Linked DNA regions of Homo sapiens: region 2 is linked to region 1. Evidence: fine-mapped expression QTL. A gene starts in region 1. The other region holds a variant in brackets. All regions are shown on one strand. Distances are between the middles of the regions. Region 1 holds the start of TLR5 (toll like receptor 5). Region 2 holds the start of LOC102724046 (a long non-coding RNA gene).

What was found. PIP is the estimated chance that this variant, and not a neighbour inherited with it, causes the effect.
Region 2: its variant is the best candidate, but not a certain one, in a credible set for the expression of TLR5 in nasal epithelium (TOPMed, PIP 0.59).

Annotation. Positions count from the first base shown.
Region 1 is chr1:223,140,777-223,146,153 of GRCh38, reverse strand. It overlaps TLR5 (toll like receptor 5), which reads left to right and starts at 2,906. Exons shown (of 6, transcript NM_003268.6): 1 at 2,906-2,958; 2 at 4,391-4,506. It overlaps LOC124904522 (a long non-coding RNA gene), which reads right to left and starts at 2,799. Exons shown (of 2, transcript XR_007066895.1): 1 at 2,556-2,799. RefSeq lists a silencer at 2,748-3,117.
Region 2 is chr1:223,092,509-223,097,885 of GRCh38, reverse strand. LOC102724046 (a long non-coding RNA gene) reads left to right here and starts at 2,001. Exons shown (of 2, transcript XR_007066892.1): 1 at 2,001-2,102; 2 at 3,412-5,377. The variant A/G (reference allele first, on the strand shown) is at 3,109.

The DNA of each region.
Region 1 (5,377 bases):
TAGCCCAGACTCCTCAGCAGAACACATGTGCATGAACGTGGGATCTGGTGATTGCCTACCTACCTCTTCAACCGCCTCCATCCTTCACACAACCTGCGCTCCATTTACCAAACCACTGGCAGTTCCCCAAATGAGCCACATTCCTTCATTCGTCTCCTGCCCAGAATGCCCTCCCTCTGTCCCGTCCAGGTGACAAAGTCATCTTTTTCTTTTTCACCAAGTCCCAGATATAGGCACTCCCAGGCAGAGTTAGATACCTATATTATTGCAGCATTTATCAAATTACACTATAACCATTTATTTACATGTCCAACCCTACTCCCCCAGGCTGCAAGCTCCTGAGAGCCAGATCGTATTTAGATTTGTATTTCTGGCAAGAAGCACAAGGGCTACGGAAGCTTAATACACATTTGTTGAATGGATGGTTAGTTTTAAGAAGTACCTAATAAACCTTGGTATTTGTATTTCCTTGAATCTTGTTTTGGTTGCTACCTTTTTTAATGGAAATAGTCACTACTGCTTATGTTTACAAGTTTATTGAGTTCTAATTTTATCTTTTAAGATAAAGATTGCTGATATCATTCATTCACTCATTCATTCATCAATAAATATTTATAGGGAGACACTTGTCAGATACTGGATTTGAAGTGAACAAATCAGACATGGCCCCTACCCTCGTGAGGCTTACAGTCTATTAAATCTATTAAGTATGAAGGACAGGCTGACCTTGAACCAATAAACATGTCCATGTAAAATCATAAATTGAAATGAGAGTTGTGAAGGAAAAGAATAGGTTATAAAGAGGAAGAATAATGGGAGGGACCTAATTTAATTAGAAGAGTTAGGGAAGTTCTCTTTGAAGAAGTTACATTACAGGGAACACTAAAATGTGGGTAGGAGTGAGCTACGCAAAGTCATGGAGAAAGAGTATTCCAGGTAGAAGAAATAGCATGCGTGAAGACCTTAAGCAAGTGGAAGGCAGCTGCTGAGGCTGGGGACTGGGAGGTTGGGGCTGGAAGCAGACAAGCCTAGAGAAGTTGTCAGGGGCTAGACGATGGGGTTTTGACCTAGAATATAAACTTTGTTTGTAGTTCATAGGGAAGACATTGAAGGTTTAATATATGGGAATGACGGGAACCTCTGGCAGGGCTCTGCCTGTGAGCATCACATAGCACCCCGAGGATGTGTTTGCTACTCTAGGTTTCAGTGGAGAAAAAAGCAAGTGACAACCCTTCTGTTCCTGCTCAGCAAAAGCTTTGATCACCAGCCCCCTTCCCCTGAATATACTGGAGAAAAATAACAGAAGTGCATTTCAAGGTCCACATGTGAGAAGACCCTAAGCTGTCCTGGCTGTTCAGGTAGAAGTTGTCATCTTCCTCAATGATCTCGGCTGTTGGAAGACATGGCCAGGCAGACAGAATCTAAAAGTTCTTCCAGGTGTGACATGAGTCCCTGGAGCTCAGTGACAGAAACCAGTGTCCAAAACCAGATGCCACCCTGGGGAGGGGGCTTTGGGAGTTCCTGGGAGGCCATAACACCGTCTGGAAGGCTCCTCTCTCCCACATATTCACAAAGTTGCATGATAAGCCAGGCCCCTGCTGGTCTTGCAGCATCCACCTATGATGCAGAGTAAACAGTGCCACACGTCAAGCTGTCCCCAACCTTGCCCTCGGTTCCACTACCAAAAGAGGGAACACTGGGCTTGCCCCAGCAAGGTGTTATTTATGTCAGGCTAGGGCCACTGTGGCTCCCAGCTCTTACTGCTTTCTAGGTGCCCTTACAGACTTCCCCACTGCCCCCTGCATATGCCAGAGTGTGAACATCCCCTCCCTCTCCACAGCCCCCACAGTGGGGTTCGGGTGGGCAGGGAGGTGGTTTCATCCCTCTACATACAGCCCTTGGAGACCTACCTAGGCAATTTGTCACTCAGGCTTCAAGCTGCCAGCCGAGGAGGGGAGCTGAGAAGACTCTATAATGAGATCTTTGCACTGTAATTAAGTGCCAGGCTTTGTTTTACACCTATCTTTCCCGCCTTGCCCGATCCCACCGCCAAGCTCCTCCAGGCAGTGAGTGGGGAGTGTCAGCTGCTCTGTGATTACACCCCAAGTGGCAGGTGGCAGGGAGCTCCTCCGCCTGCAGTCTGCGCCCCACCCCCAGGCTTCCCCCACCACCAGTCTTAACTCAAGACAGTGCTATTTCTGTCCTTGAACTGGGTTTCACCCCAGAAAGCCACTCCACCGCTTTCTCATAAGGCTACCTCCTTTTAACCCTGTGGTTGCACGGCCTCTGGGGTGTCCATTTCTTTCTTTTGACACGTCCCTTTTCCTGAAAGTTTCAGCAAACCCCATAGGCAGAGGGAGTTAGAAAAAGGAAAAGAGAAGTTAGGGCAGGAGGAGCACTGTTCTTATAGGACAGGAAGGGTCTGTCTTCTCTCTTGGGTCCTCCACACAAAATCGGAGCTTCCAAACACCCCAGCTCCCAAACATATGCAGCAGATTCTGCTGACAGGAATGTGTCACTGTGATCTTCACATTTTAGCCTGAAGTTTAGCCTACCTGAAGAAGCACCGGAGTGGGAGTGGGAGAACATGGGATGGTGCTTCTCTTTGGCCTGGCTGTGCTTTTGGACACTTCAGGTCTTCGGCCTGGGTTTCCTCCTCCGTACGATGAGGAGAGGATGGGAGGGGGCAATGCTGGCATGTGTGATCTCGATAGACACTGTGGAAGTCTGCAGAGACCGGAGCATAACCTCTGCCTCCTCTCCCCGGGCCTAGCCTCTCACAGCCCTCAGAGAAAACCCTGAGCTGCGGCGTGGCCGAGACGGGGGCGTGGCCTGGCAGGTGGGCGGGCCCTTCCGTGGGCGGGGCCGCGAGGTTTTCAGGAGCCCGAGCGAGGGCGCCGCTTTTGCGTCCGGGAGGAGCCAACCGTGGCGCAGGCGGCGCGGGGAGGCGTCCCAGAGGTGAGCGCCCTGCAGCGGCAGGGGATGGGCCGGGGGCCCTAAGTCGTAGGCAGCGCGGGGCGGGGACGCGGCTGCCTGCGGAGGTCGGACTCCTCTCCGCCCTCCTCCCGGGCTGTCCGGGTCTATTTTCCAGTCTATGTCCAACTCGCGCCGCCTCACTAGGCGGCGCTCTCTGCCCCGCGGCACCCGCGAGACGTGGGGTCCCTCGGCCCAGGGACGGGGTGAGCGTGTCATGTGGGTGCCCTGTGCCCGGCAGGTTGGAGACGAAGAGACCTCGGCACAGACGAAGTCACTCACATCCTCGCTTTGAAACAGAGCGGGTCCTTCTTGTGCTGTCTCGCTGTCACTCTCGCCCCCACCCTGTGGAAGAGGCAGGTGGCTTGTCCCCAGTCACTTTCTTCCTTGGAAAAGGGAGACAGAGGGCCATCTCCAGCAGGGCCATGGAAATCCCAGAAAGTCACTGAGCTGCTCAACAAAAGGCCCTAAACACCCCACCCCACAGCACCAGGCAGTGCACACTGGCCAAGACTCCGTGGTAAATATTGCTGGCCTTTATGTTGAGAGGGGGAAAAAAAAGCCTGCCTGTGAAGATCATTGCCCAGTGGCCATGCTCCTGTGAAAACACAATTGGAAAGCCATTTCCTAAGGGGCGAGGGTGGGTCTGGGACCATGCTGTGGCTTGGGTGATTGGTGGTTGCAGGAGTGAGGGTGCTGCCCTGGGAAGGCGCTGAGGCCCTGTTGGGTGGGAATCGACGGCTGCGGCTTTCTCCCGGAGGAGGGAGAGCGGTGTTGTTACCTAGTGTTGGGAACACATCCGTCCAGCACCGTGAACTGCAAACAAGCAGAGTAACCCTAGTGTCCTTCAGATACTGTTGCTGAGCAGTCACCTAGTCAATGAGATGATCTGTTTGGACGGCAAGTGCATCTGTAATGCCGCCCTCTTGCTCAGTGCCTGGAAGAGGCATTGGTGACTCCCCGCTAATGCTAGGGGTAGCTACCGTGCAGGAGCAGTCAGGCTCTTGCAGGGCCAATGTGGTTTCATCAATTTTCTCCTGCATTTACCCAGCCCCTCCGAATTCTGAGAAGTGCGTCCAAGATCTCTTGGACTCCTTGACTCAGTTCACCCTTGTTCTTGTGGGCAGAAAACAATTCCCAGTGTGCCATGCACAGCCAGTCAGAAGGGAAGCCCTGGAGCAGGGCCCTGGGAGAAGTTCTGTGGGGCTGGATGCTAATTATTCAGTTACTGGATTGTGGGGAAATTCCAGGGGAGGTCCCAGAGGAGAGACCGTGCTAAAGCTAATTACTAAGCAGTACAAAAATAATCTCTCTCTCTCTCTTTCTCTCTCTCTCTCTCTCTCTCTCTCTCTCTCTCTATATATATATATATATATATATATATATATATATATATGTAATTTTTTTTTTGAGACAGTCTCACTCTGCCGCCCAGGCTGGACTGCAGTGACACAATCTCGGCTGACTGCAACCACTGCCTCCAGGGTTCAAGCGATTCTCTTGCCTCAGCCTCCCAAGTAGCTGGGATTACAGGTACCCACCACTACGCCTGTCTAATTTTTGTATTTTTAGTAGAAATGGGGTTTCACCATGTTGGTCGGGCTGATCTCAAACTCCTGACCTCAGGTGATCCGCCTGTCTTGGCCTCCCACAGTGCTGGCATTACAGGTGTGAGCCACTGTGCTGGGCCAAAAATAATCTAAATTTCAACAATCAGCATGACCATGCCTGTGCGTATGACCCTAATTATCAGTCTGACTGATTCTTCCTTCCAAAATGATGGCAGAGGATCACCTCTTTGGATATTTACAGCTCTGAGCAAAGCAAAAAGCATGTAGGTGCCATTGTCTGAATGCAAAACCAGCCATGCCAGGTTTTCGGTGTTGTTTCTGAGGAGGGAGCGCCTCTCTGGAGGACGGTGTTTCCAGAACAGTGCCTCCGTTGTTCATTCCCGTGCATCAGGAAGTTTGGCTCTGCTGAGTGTTGAAAGCAAAACTCTCCTGTTTATTTGTCTCTGTATACTAACAGACTTAAACAGCAGACAGCACTGGAATGTCCAGTTACTGCATCCAGATGTGTTTGTTTCACTCTTAACATTGTGGAAAAGAATGCAGAAGGCAGATCCAAAGCTTCAATCAGATTTCTGAAGCTTAAGTGATTCCCAGCCTTGGTCCCTTAATGTGAGAGCAACAGCGTATAGTGTCTTCCGCTCTCTGGGACAAACCCAAGTTTGAGGCATAGTCCCTGCTGTCCAAAAGCTCCTAGGTCTAAGTAGGAAGACAAAACCAGCACCTGTGAAACAATTAGAGCGCAATTAAGTGCGAAAGTATGTGGCAGCATCTGCTAGCTCAAAGAAGACAGCTAGTGCAGACTGACTGGGAAAGGAAGAGAGAGCTTCACAGAG
Region 2 (5,377 bases), 48 kb after region 1:
GGACTTTGGCTTTGAGGGAGGTCCTGGGGTTGGTGGTAATGCCAAGTTGACCTTGGACAATCCAGCACTCTCTAAGGATGGCTCCAGCCCCTCGAGGGGAGTCAGCACCCTCTGAATAGCATTTTCAGGCCTCTCCCAGGAAGCTGGGGCTTGGAGTGGGAGTGTCCCCCCAGGAGAGTGGCAGAGGCAGGATGATTCAGGGTCAGCCCAAACCTTACAGATATTCCCCGAGGTGGCCAACGCAACCATGAGCAAGAGCCGAGGCCTTAGCCAACAAGACAATGGAGGGCAGCTCATATGAAGGGCAAAGCAAAGGCCAAAGTGAGAGAAGTAAGCGCTGTGACATGGAGACCAGCTCAGGATAGGATAGATGGCTCAGGAACCAGGCTGTTAAGGAGAGAATACTCAGCATTTCTGAGAACACGGCAGTTCGAGGACCCGTGCTGGTCTGGGCCCGCTCCCCCAGCCCCTGATGGGGGCCTGTGTGCTCTGCAAAGAGCTGTGCCCTGTGATGGGGGGTCTGTGACCTGGGAGGGAATACACTCAATCTCACATGGGTTGTGGAAGCCTGTGCTCCCCCCACAGCCAGGGAAGATCATGAGCTGCTTTGTGAGTGTGAGACATTACAGATACAACAGCCAATTGACTCAAACAAAACTATTGCAGGAAAGAAAAGGCTTTCTGAATTATGGAGTGCTGTGGGCTGAGTTGTGGACCCCCAAAATTTATATGTTGAAGTCCTACCCCTAGTGCCTCAGAATGTTCCTTTATTTGGAGATAGGGTCTGATAGAGTTTAGTTATTTGTCCCCCCAAATCTCATGTTGAAATGTAGTCCCCAGTGTGGAAGGTGGGGCCTGGTGGGAGGTGAGTGGCTCGTGGAGGAGGATTTCTCATGATTGGTTCAGCCCCATCCTCATGGTGCAGTCCTCATGACGGTGAGTGAGTTCTCGTGAGATCGGGTGGGTTGAAAGTGTGTGGCCCCTCCTTCTCCTTCTCTTGCACCTGCTTTGGCCATGAGATCTGCCTGCTCCACTTGCCTTCCGCCCTGAGTAAAAGCTCCCTGAGGCCTCCCCAGAAGCTGAGTAGATGCCATAGCCATGCTTCCTGTACAGCCCACAGAACCGTGAGCCAGTTAAACCTCTTTCCTTGATAAGTTACCTACCCTCAGGTATTTCTTTATAGCAGCGCAAGAACAGACTCATACAGGATCACTGCATGTGGAATCAGGTAAGACAAGGTCATACTGGAGTAGGAAAGGGGTTAATCCAATATGACTGGTGTCCTTAAAAAATGGGAAATTCATCGAGGGCAGATTGGATAAAGGAAATGTTGTACATATACACTATGGAATACTTCACAGCTATAAAAAAGGAGAAGATTATGTCCTTTGCAGGTACAGGAATGGAGCTAGAGGTCATCATCCTTAGCAAACTAATGCAGGAACAGAAAACCAAATGCCACATGTTCTCACTTATAAGTTGAAGGTAAATAATGAGAACACGTGGACACATAGAGGGGAATAGCACACACTGGGGCCTACTTGAGGGTAGAAGGTGGGAGGAAGGAGAGGATCAGAAAAAACGATTGGTTACTAGGCTTACTACCTGGTTGATGAAATAATCTGTACAGCAAACCCCAGTATCAAGAGTTTACCTATATAACAAAACTGCACATGTACCCCTGAACCTAAAATAAAAGCTTTTTATAAAAAGAAAAGAAAAAGGGCTGGGCATGATGGCTCACACCTGTAATCCCAGGACTTTAGGACACCCAGGTGGGTGGACTGCTAAGCTCAGGAGTTCAAGACCAGCCTAGGCAACATTGCGAAACCCCGTCTCTACAAAAATTAGCCAGGCATGGTGGCATGTACCTGAAGTCCCATCTACTTGCAGGGCTGAGGCCAGAGGATCGCTTGAACCCAGGAGGTGGAGATTGTAGTGAGTTGTATTTGTGCCACTGCACTCCAGCCTCGTTGACAGAGCAAGGGCAAGACCTTTTCTTTAAAAAAAAAAAAAGAAAGAAAGAAAAGAAAAAGAAAAGACAAGAAAAGAAAAGAAAAGGATATAATCAGCCAAATTCAAAATGTGTGAAATGCTACAAGGTAAGTGAACTAATTTTTTCCAATAAATAAATGATAAGAAAAAAGAGAGAAGAGGAAACTACTATAGATTTTAAGAAATTTAAGACATATCAACCAAACACAATGTGTACATAGACCTTGTTGAGATCCTGAACAAATTGACTTTTGGGGAAATGTGAACACTGAGTAGCTATCTGGTAATACTGGGTTTTTTGGTTTTGGTTTTGTTTTTTGAGACAGAGTCTCACTCTGTCACTCAGGCTGGAGTGCAGTGGTGTGATCTCGGCTCACTGCAACCTCTGCCTCCTGGGTTCAAGTGATTCTCCTGCTTCAGCCTCCTGTGTTGCTGGGAATATAGGTGCACGCCACCATGCCTGGCTAATTTTTGTACTTTTAGTAGAGACAGGGTCTCGCTATATTGGCCAGGCTGGTCCCTAATTCCTGACCTCAAGTGATCTACCCACCTCAGCCTCCCAAAGTGCTGGGATTACAGGTGTCAGCCACCATGACTGGCCAGGTGATACTGTTTTGTTCAGTTAATAGTGAGATAATTGTATCAAAATTATGTATTTAAGAGTTCTTGGCTGGGTGTGGTGGCTCACGTCTGTAATCCCAGCACTTTGTGGGAGGCCAAGGCAGGTGGATCACTTGAGATCAGGAGTTCAAGACCAGCCTGGCCAACATGGCAAAACCCTGTCTCTACTAAACACACACACAATTAGCTGGGCATGGTGGCATGCACCTGTTAGCCCAGCTACTCAGGAGGTTGAGGCATGAGAATTGCTTGAACCCAGGTAGTGGAGGTTGCAGTGAGCCAAGATAGCACCACTGCACTACAGCCTGGGCGACAGACTGAGACTCTGTGTCAAAAAAAAAAAAAAAAAAAGTTATCATTTAGAAGACATGTGACTGACATGTATGTAAATAAAATGATAAGGAGAATTTGCTTTAAAATATTTCCATAGAGATAGGTGCAGGGAGGAGGAACAAATGAGATAAGATTGGCCATTTGTTGGTCATTGTCGAC[A/G]CTATGTAATGGGTACATGGGGGTTCATTATACTATTCTATTTTTGTGTATGTTCAAAATTTTCTACTATTAAAAGTTTTTTTAATTTTAAAATAAAAAATAAGTAAAAATGGGAAATTTAGAGGTAGACACTCATGCAGGAAAAGTGCCAGGTGAAGATGAAGGCAGGGATCGTAGTGAAGCTTCTACAAGCCGAGGATCACCAGCAAACCACCAGAAGCCAAGGGAGAGGCCAGGAACAGACTCTCCCCACAGCCCTCAGAAGGGTCCAACCCTGCTGACACCTTGATCTTGGACTTCCAGCTTCCAGGACTGTGAAACAAGACATTTCTTTGGTTCAAGCCACTCCCTTAGTGCACATTGTTATGGCAGCCATGGAAAACCATCCACAGAGGGTCAGTTCCTATGGAGGTGGGGTGAGTGACGAGATGTTCCTGACTGGGCTGACAACGGAGGACGAGAGAGCTTGGGTGTGGATGGGAAAATAACTAGAAACTTCCCTTGATCTCTCAGCATTCTGTTCCATCCCTGTCACTTCGATGTCTCTCTTTCTTGAATATGGAAGCAGCCCTGGGCCCAGCTGCTGCAGGTGGCCAGGAAGGAGCCTGGGAGGATGACGGGGTTCCTGATCTGATAGAACTGGGCTGTGACTAGGCAGAACCCTGTTCCACCACACACACCCCAGTGGAGGTCAGTACCCCAAATCTGACACCAGGATGTAGCATGTCCATGGAGTCTGTCTGCTGACACCTGTCCCACCCTCCCCTGGCCCGTAACTTTGAGAGATACTGCAATTCCTACCGATGTTGCTGCCATCCTTTATTCAGCCCATTATCAGAAGTTATGACACATTGCAAAATGCTCAGGCTAGTTGAATTTCTGCAACAGGGCAAGGCGGTTAAATCCTGTCCTTCCTGGAGTCTCATTGACCAGGCTTTGAATCCCAATTCTACCATGGATTAGATTTGCAACTTTGGCAAATTGATGAACTCTTCTGAGCTTTGGACTAATAATAGGGTTTTGTGAGGAATACCTGAGATAATGCATGTACAACACCTTGCATGTTGTTTAGCACCTACTAGAAATGCAACCAACTCTAGCTGTTATCGCTAGTTTTTCTCTTGCTCCATCTCCATTCCTGAGATGTGCATGGCTACTCTGTGTTTGTTGTTGGGAAGAGCCGTAGACAGTCGTATCCTCTTCCTGAGAATGGTAACTGAGCTGCCCCCTTGGGACTGTCCAGGGGCTGGCCATTAGCCCCACGAGGCAGCAACAAAACCAACAAGACAAGTCTGTTTACTCTTCTGGTCTATAATTTAAAATGTGTTTGATGCTACTTTTTTTTTTTCTTTTTAGGACGTTCTGTATCTGTGATGAATGACCCCTGCATACATTATATCTTTCAGTAAAAACAGTGGTGTTTCAGTAGTGTTACTAGCTAAGCTGCTTAACTCTCACATTACAGACGTCAGTGAAGCCCCTTGGTAGGTAGTGTCTAAAATTAGATTTATCTGCTTATTTACACAATTATACTCTCATGAGTTTGAATGTTGGGGAAAGATCAAGAAAAAGACCAGATCACTAGATGGCAATAGCACACAAGAGCTTTATTTGGATGAAGCTTGGACAGAATGCATGGAAGGGGAAAGTCCCTTGCAGCAGAAGACCTTCCAGAGGCAGTGGCAGGGCCACCACCAGAAGAAAAGGGCAAGGACACTCCCAGGGGAGAGGAGGATCAGAGAGGAGGTTACAGGTCTAAGAGATGTCACAGGTCTAGAAGAAAAGAAAAGGAGCCAGGTGCAGTGGCTCACACCTGTAATCCCAGCACTTTGGGAGGCCCAGGCGGGCAGATTGCTGAGTTCAGGAGTTTGAGACCAGCCTAGGCAAACATGGTGAAACCCCATCTCTAAAAAAAGATTTAAAAATTAACCAGGCCTGGTGGCATGTACCTGAAGTCTCATTTACTTGGGGGGCTAAGGCTGGAGGATCGTTTGAACCCAAGAGGGTTCATGGTGGGGAGCATCATGGTGAGGAGTCTCTGGGTCAGAGAGCTCCAAAGGACAGCAGCCATTTGGGGTCTTTTGTAGCCCTGAGGTTCGTCTTACCTATGGTGAGAGGGTGTCGGGTGTAGTTTTGCAAATTATCGAAGCAGGCAGGCTCTAAATGGGCAAATAATATTTGGCCTACATTTAAAGCAATTGGATGTGCAAGAATTTGAGTTTGGTGCTGGCAGGCTTGAGTTAACGGTCCTGGGCTGTGGTGTGGAAGT